Linked DNA regions of Homo sapiens. The protein of the gene in region 2 interacts with the protein of the main gene of each other region in a biochemical or structural test. Each region holds a gene or a part of one and is shown on either strand. Other genes may lie near its edges. The genes, in order: TOLLIP and CSTF1.

The links.
Region 1: the proteins of CSTF1 (region 2) and TOLLIP form a complex in vitro, tested with the Homo sapiens proteins (one study listed by BioGRID).

What each region holds. Positions count from the first base shown.
Region 1 is NC_000011.10:1,302,943-1,306,751, reverse strand, and holds part of TOLLIP (toll-interacting protein), read left to right. Parts: intron 1-3,809. UniProt on the Homo sapiens protein: Component of the signaling pathway of IL-1 and Toll-like receptors. Inhibits cell activation by microbial products. Recruits IRAK1 to the IL-1 receptor complex. Inhibits IRAK1 phosphorylation and kinase activity.
Region 2 is NC_000020.11:56,402,633-56,407,159, forward strand, and holds the end of CSTF1 (cleavage stimulation factor subunit 1), read left to right. Parts: intron 1-835; coding exon 836-1,095; 3' UTR 1,096-3,730; downstream 3,731-4,527. UniProt on the Homo sapiens protein: One of the multiple factors required for polyadenylation and 3'-end cleavage of mammalian pre-mRNAs. May be responsible for the interaction of CSTF with other factors to form a stable complex on the pre-mRNA.

The DNA.
Region 1 (3,809 bases), on a different chromosome or scaffold from region 2:
TGGAGTTTACCGGCTCAGCGCAGCACTCTGTAAAGTGTTGCCTGGCACACGCAAGGCAGGGCCCGCCTTGGCACCAGCCTGCTTCGCTGAGCATGACCCACCCCAGCCCCTCTGAATTAACCCATAGTGGGCCTTTACCCAGTTACTAGCACCTAGAGGAGCCCTGCTTTTGCAGGATGTCTTGACACAGTATTTATCATGTCCTCTTTCTGTTACACCTGTGGTGCCAGAGAGGCAGGAGGTTAAGCAGGGCGCTCGCTCAGCTTTCCAGCAGAAAGAGATGCTCCCCAGGGTCCGGGGGCAGGACTCTGGCTCGGGAGACCCTGACTGTGGTCTAGCCGTTGCCTCCCCCTAGTGATAAGGGGAGACGGCAAGATCCCATGGGCCGTGAAGGAGCAGAGGGGCCGCTAATGGGGTCCTGGGAGGGTTCTTTTGTCCTTGGGTAGAGGGAGCTTCAGGGGCCCGGGTGGGTAGGTGTGGAGAGGACGTGTGAAGCTAGCCAGCCCGACATCGTTCTGAGAGAATCATACCGTGTTTAGATCTTCAGGATAATGGTTCCCTGAATAGCCACTAAGGGATGCTTCAGCCCTGTGCAGTGCTTCCCTCACGTTTCAAAAAGGCCAGTATTTTGGAAAGATAACCTTTTTTCAATATAGTCTGCATATTATCAGAAAGCATGGGTGAGTACCTGCAAGGAGTACCATGTGGACCCCTGCGAGGGGTACCGTGGGGGCCCCTGCGAGGGGTACTGTGTGGACCCCTGTGAGGAGTATCATGGGGGCCCCTGCGAGGGGTACCGTGCGGGCCCCCGCGAGGAGTATCGAGGAGTACCGTGTGGACCCCTGCCTTCTGCAGTGAGATCTCGGGACGTTTGCGGGAGACTCCGCTGCAGCCACCGCGGTGCCGTCAGAGAGGCCTCCTTGGTAGAGGTGGGTGCGCTGTGCCGTGTCCAGGCTGCTCTGACTCCTTGTCCTGCTTCTGGAGGTGCTGGTTGGCCATGGAGTCCAGCTGGAGGCGGCCTGGCCCCTCCCTTCCTCCCTGAGAGGCCTGTTCCTGTCCAGGTCCCCTCACTCTTCACATCGTTGATAATTCCTGCCGAATCGGTGACTTCATTAGGGATGGCAGAGGGTAGTTTCTGAACTTTATCACTTCTTCGGTGTTTATTAACTGGGATTGTTTGTAAAGATTAGCTTTCCCCATCAACCGGTGTCGGCTGGCTGTCCTGAAACACAATTCGTGAAAGAAAGGCAAGTGAGATGCTTTTCCCTCATCTTCCCGTACCTCAAGGAGAGAGTTGCTTTTCTTTGTAGATGTGTGTGGGCTTTCTCTCCCCTGAGTGTTGTGAAGAGCCCGTGGATTTTCCTGCATCCTGTGTGTCTGAGCCAGTGGCACTTACCCGTCTCCGCTGGCTCTGGTGGGCTGCTCCTGGGAGGGCGTCCGTTCCTGCTGACTGCACCTGAGCCAGCGGGGAACGCACTCACCGCCTCCTCACGAGTCCTTTCTCTCTGGGTTCCTGTGAACCTTTGCGCTGGATTTTTTAGGCCGGGTTGTGAGTCTGTACAGGTGTGGAATTGCTGTGCTTGCCTGGAAATCACATCTTTTCACTGTGTGGGGACCCACGGGCCTCTTGGAAGATAAAGGCCTCTTGCCTTTGATTATTTTGTCTGATACTGGCATGGCCACCCCAGCTGTCTTTTAGAGAGTATTCACCTAGTACTTTTTCCTTCTATGATTTTACATTTTTCTGAAAACTTTTGTTTAAGACACGTGCACCATCGATAGCACGTAGCTGGATTTTTAAAAAGTCAAATCTAAGAAGACTAAGTCTTTTGATGGGAATGCGCTAGTTTCATCTTTCTAGTTAAGAGATGCCTAGATGGATACACAGATTTACAGATTTTTTACATGTTTTCTTTGGTGCTTTTATTTGTCCTACATTTTCTTATTTTTTTTCTCTCATTGCCTTTTGAATTTATTAAATGGAGTTTTAAAAAATTCAGTTGTTTTATCTCAAGTACATACACACTGTGCTGGGAAAGTACAGGGGCTCCCCTGGAAATGGTAACATGCACTTATCAGCTTCTGCCATGAGGGAGTCTCTGAGTGAACTCTGGCTCCGGAGGCTGCCCGGCTAAAGAATAAATAAAGAAGAAGTTAATCATTGTCTGTGCCACCTCCGGATCCACGCGGAGACCTCGGCCGCCCCGTCCTGGCGCGGGTGCTGCTGTGCCTTGTGTGGGTGCTACCTCCCCTTGGGGCTCCCGCAGGAATGTGTTACTTCTCTCGAGTCAGCGCTTGTTTAGATTTCCTTCTGTGTTTCTCTTTTCTTATCCCTTCTGGTGTCTCGGGCCTTCCATTTGGGGTCACTTTCCTTTAGCTTCAGGTTCATCTAGAATTTTCCTTGCTGGCAAACTTGATTTTTGCTTGTACATGCCTTTTCTCTGTGTCCTGACAGCTATTTTTGTGTGTGTGGAACTCCAGGTGGGCGGTACTCCAGGTGGACAGTACTCCCGGTGGACGGTCACTTGTCCTCAGTGCCTCGAAGGTGGGACCCCGCCCTCTCCTGGCTCCTGGAGTGGCTGCTGAGCAGCCCGGGAGTGGATGTCCCTTCCTCCGGCTTTCCTTCGTTTTTGGCCCTCTGTTTGCTGCCTTCTGAATACGCTGCTTCTGGCCTGCCTCCCAGTTCACTTGAGGTCTTTTTTTTTTTTTTTTTTTTTACATGGAGGCTCGCTCTGTAGCCCAGGCTGGAGTGCAGTGGCACAATCTCAACTCACTGCAACCTCTTCCTCCCAGGTTCAAGCGATTTTCCTGCCTCAGACTCCCGAGTAGCTGGGATTACAGGCGTCCACCACCACGCCCAGCTAATTTTTGTATTTTTAGTAGAGATGGGGTTTCACCATGTTGGCCAGGCTGTTCTCGAACTCCTGGTCTCAAGTGATCCGCCCACCTCAGCCTCCCAAAGTTTTGGGATTACAGGCGTGAGCCACTGCACCCGGCCCTAACCTCTGTTCATCTGGGCCTCTAACACTGTCCCTTGACCTGCCCGACAGGCCCCTGGTTAGGCCTGCTGTGCAAGTGTTTCCTGTCCCTGAGTCACTGTCTCCAGATCCTGCGGGCCCTGCCCTGGCACCGTGCTGGTGAGGCCTGCCTTGCTGCCCTGTGGGAAGTGCAGCGTGCCCCTGCCACCCGGCCTTGCCCTGTTTCTTTGCACAGCGCCTCCTGCCGTTAGCATACAGCATAACTCATGATGCTTCCCGTTTGTCTTCTTCCACTCACGTGTAAGCATCCCAGGAGCAGGGGTGCCCCAGCACCTCACCATGGAAGCCTCAGGCACACAGTGACACGCAGAGGCTGCCGCAGCGCGCGCCCTGTGCCCGGCGCCCAGGGCCTGCCACGTCACATGCCGTCCCTCTCTGGATCTCTGTCCGCCCTTGGCCTGCTGCTTGACTGGCTTTTGTTTCATCTGAATGAGAAGGGGTTTTCCGCCTCTGCCTTGCTTGACCGTCCCAGCACTTAGGATGCAAGGCTGCCTGCAGTGGAGTTCCTGGCAGAGACCCCATTTAAAGTCGCTTGTTCTGTAGTCAGCTTTTATAATCTATGCTTATTCTCATTCTGTCCTGTACTCTTCCCTTTCACCGCTCTTCAGCTTACACGGGTTCGTTTCAATACTGTCATCTCCCAGCTTCCCTTACACAAATTCTAGTGTTTGCTTTGAGACTTTAGCAGAGCCAGGGAACCTCCCGGCATGTTGGCTTTGAAGCGCCTGTTGTGTTTTGTATAATTAAAGGAAGAGGGGAGGGGGTGATAGG
Region 2 (4,527 bases):
GAAGTAAAAGAATTGTTAAACAGGCCGGGCATGGTGGCTCACACCTGTAATCCCAGCACTTTGGGAGGCCGAAGCAGGTGGATCACAAGGTCAGGAGATAAAGACCATCCTGGCCAACCTGGTGAAACCCTGTCTTTACTAAAAATACAAAAATTGGCTGGGTGTGGTGGTGTCCACCTGTAGTCCCAGCTACTTGGGAGGCTGAGGCGGGAGAATCACTCGAACCCAGGAGGCGGAGGTTGCAGTGAGCCGAGATCACGCCACTGCACTCCAGCCTGGCGACAGAGTGAGACTCTGTCTAAAAAAAAAAAAAAAAGATCACACACAAAAGAATTGTTAAATAAGTAATGGGGCTTCTAAACATGAGGCACTTTGCATCTAGTAAAAAACATGGAAAAATGTACTCAGCATAAAGTTGGTTAAAACTATAATAGAAAAATATAGTGGCAACAATTTTATATGTATTTTTAAAATGTGTTTTTTTATGCCTCAAAGTACATTAGGACAGTAACAGTATTGCTTCAGGTGATCTGGTGATCTCCTTTTTTTTTTTCCTGATGCAGTCTTGCTCTTGCTCTGTTGCCTGTTGCCCAGACTGGTCTTGAACTCCTGGGCTCAAGCAGCCCTCCTTCCTCAGCCTCCCAAAGTACTGGGATTACAGACGTGAGCCACTGTGCCTGGTTTGATTTTCTTTTTTGTACTTTTTTAGAGTTTCTGAAAGTGTACAAGGTGTATCACTGCAACAGGTTTAAAATGCTTTTACATTGAATGCTAGAACGTTCTGAGGGTCTAAGATGTGGACTTAGAAAGCTATCCCTCTTGCTCTCTGTGGCAGGCGCGGGTTTAAGTGGACGCCAGGTGCACCGGACACAGGCTGTGTTTAACCACACCGAGGACTATGTGTTGCTGCCCGACGAGAGGACGATCAGTCTTTGCTGCTGGGACTCGAGGACAGCCGAGCGGAGAAACCTGCTGTCGTTGGGGCACAACAATATTGTACGCTGCATAGTGCACTCCCCCACCAACCCCGGGTTCATGACGTGCAGCGATGACTTCAGAGCGCGGTTTTGGTACCGGAGATCGACCACTGACTGAGCCACCCTCTCCGTAGGGTTCTTTCTCGAGGACTCTACCCTCCTCCCCCACGTCCTGTCTCAGCTGCAGTCGTAAGTCCGTGCACCATCCTTGACGTTTTGCTGCCACCTCTGTCCACATTCTTCTTGGATTTGTATAAAAGAATCTTTTTTTACCTTGATGTAGAATCATGGTGGAAAAAGTTGGAAACACAGATCTGTGCAGTTCTACATTCACTGATTATTACAGTGTGATTTTCATCGGTTTTGTAAGTACAGGACTTGCCGTTTCTTTTGATCTCTTGATTGAAGGAGGATAGGGCATTAAAGTGCTTTTGACATGAGGAATTTTCATTTGGTTCTTCTGTCAACTTTCTTGCTTATTCTGCTGAACCCTCTGTGTATTTCCCTTCCAGGTATATTTGAACAGATAAGCAGGCATGCAGCTCTGAGACTCCTGAGTTTTATGCCATTATCAAAAGCATTTTCAAGAATCCCTCAATTCTATCCTGAAATGATGTTATTCTGATAATAAAGCTCAGATCTGCAACTTTATTGTTATATATTTTTCACTTCTGTAAAATTAATGGCCAGTTTTTCCTGACAATTTATAGGAACAGTATCTTTCAACATACTCCCTACATTATCCTTCAATATCTGCAATACTTGTCTTTAGTAACTGTATTTCTGGTAAGATTATGATTTCATGAGAAACAATTGAAAATATATCCGATCTAATTAAATTAGGTCAGCCTGCTATTGCTCTCAGGTGTTGCCTGTCTTCACGAATGATTAGTATCGATTGACCTCTTTCTTAGGTGGTTTTAAGTCTTCAGTTCTCGTCAGCATGAACTAACTTCTCATCATGGAGGCACATAGTAACTGCATTCTCAGAAGATTTATGCAGTTAACCAATTGATACAAGTTTTCTTTTTCTTGAATTTTTTTTTTTTTAATTGAGGCACAGTCTTGCTCTGTCACCCAGGTTGGAGTGCAGTGGCGTGATCTCAGCTCACTGCAAGCTCCGCCTCCTGGTTTCACACCATTTTCCTGCCTCAGCCTCCCAAGTAGCTGGGACTACAGGCACCCACCACCACGCCCGGCTAATTTTTTTTTTTTTTTTTTTTTTTTTTGTATTTTTAGTAGAGCCAGGGTTTCACCATGTTAGCCAGGATGGTCTCTATCTCCTGACCTCGTGATCCGCCTGCCTCAGCCTCCCAAAGTTTTGGGATTACAGGCGTGAGCCACCGCGCCCAGCCTTCCTGAAGCTTTTTAGAACATGACAGTACTTCTCTGGATTCAGCACTAGCAGAGTCAGAGAACTCTGAACTCCCCTTGTACAAACATAAACTTTGCTTTATATTTATCCCAAAAAACAAATACCTTATGATCTGCATAGGAGTACCTAGAAATATAATCTGGGATCATTTGATAAAAATAGTAAATAGATTGAAGTAAAAGTCATTGCTTTATATTATAGGAAGTTTTGTTTTGTTTTGTTTTGTTTGTTTTGTTTTTGAGACGGAGTTTCGCTCTTGTCCCCCAGGCTTTAGTGCAATGGCGCGATCTCGGCTCACCGCAGCCTCCGCCACCTGGGTTCAAACGATTCTCCTGCCTCAGGCTCCCGAGTAACTAGGATTACAGGCGTGCGCCACCATGCCCGGCTAATTTTGTATTTTTTTTAGTAGAGACGGGGTTTCTCCATGTTGGTCAGGCTGGTCTCGAACTCCCAACCTCAGGTAATCCGCCCGCCTCAGCCTCCCAAAGTGCTAGGATTACAGGCGTGAGCCACCACGCGCGGCCCCATCATACGAAGTTACTGAAGTTATTGCGTAAACATTCTGTTTTAGTCATCCTTGAGGATCGTTTTAACTCCTTGATCTGTAAAACTGTCTTAAGCATCTTAACATGTTACATCACAGGGTTTTAGCTCAGATTTCCAAAGAGCCATATTTTTTGATGCATATTTCCAGTTGAATTCCAGTGTGAATTTCCAGTTGTACTTTGCATTCTGATTCTTTGATATTTGAACTTGGCCATCTGTGGGTGCTACTCTCGTAAGACTAAAAGGCACCTACTAAATACGAACAAGGATAACCAGTTCTACCAAAAACATTACCAACCAAACCTCCCCTGTTCTTTTTTCAGACTTTCCTTTTGCTTTCAACCTCTTAAACTGTAAAGGAGAGATTTAATGTTTCCCTATTATTCTGCTTTGACTCACATACTAAAATGACCACATGGCACTCCATTGAATCTTTTCAGTTGTTCACGAATTAAAATAATGCCCATGTTTTACAGTTTTTCGAGTAGTCTCAGCAATGGATCTGTAGTTTCAGGACCTGTTTTTAAAAGATCAAGATACTTTTATGTGTTTCAGAAGTAGCTGTTTTTTCATTTTTTGTGGGTTTGTTTTTTTTGTGTTTGTTTGGTTGGTTGGTTTTTGGTTTTTTTGCTTTTTAAAGGTCACAGTGTTGTGAGCCTGGTGTAAATGCCAGGAATATTATATGGACTTAGTATCTGCATCTCGTTAATTGTACCACACAACACTCTGCCATTCAAATAATGAATATCTGGTCAGGATACGAACTTATACCCTCTGTGTGTTTTTTTTTTTTAAGATACGTGATTTCTGAAATAAACTTTATATACAATGATAAGCTAGTTTATTTTTTTTGGAACTTACTTTGAACATTTCCCACATTTGAACATCTGTTCTCAAACAGCAGTTATGACTTTGGTACTGTTCACCCTTTCTTTAGTGCTTTGTTCCAGAAGTCAGGTTTTTATAGCTGGATCACCTTTAGCTCTTTATCTTTGCTCCTCTGCTCTCTATGAATTTTTCTTTTTTTGAAACGAATTCTCACCCTGCCGCCCAGGCTGGAGTGCAATGGCGCGATCTCGGTTCACCGCAACCTCCGCCTCCCAGGTTCAAGCGATTCTCCTGCCTTAGCCCCCTGAGTAGCTGAGATTACAGGCGCGTGCCACCATGCCTGGCTAATTTTTTCTATCTTTAGGAGAGACAGGGTTTCGCCATGTTGGCCAGGCTGGTCTTGAACTCCTGACCTTCTGATCTGCCCACCTTGGCCTCCCAAAGTGCTGGGATTACAGACGTGAGCCACCGTGCCCGGCCGCTCTCTGTGAAGTTAAAGAACTTGAGTATAATTCAGTTTTTTGGCTTATTCAGAGAACGCTATCTTTGCTTACACTTTGGTTTTCCTTAGGAAGAGCAATGTGAGAGAGTCCAGTCTCAGCTCTGTTACTGACTTGGTAAGTAATAGGGCAAGTCATTTTTCTGGGATACAGCTTCCTTTTCTGCGATTAAAGGGCTTAATGAAAAAAATCTCCAGCATGCACTTCAACCTGTAAAGCTCTTTGTTTTCATGCCTGATGATACAAACAGACTTCAGGGAGGGAGGAAGCCATTGTTCCTAAGCGGGAGACATCTGTTTCT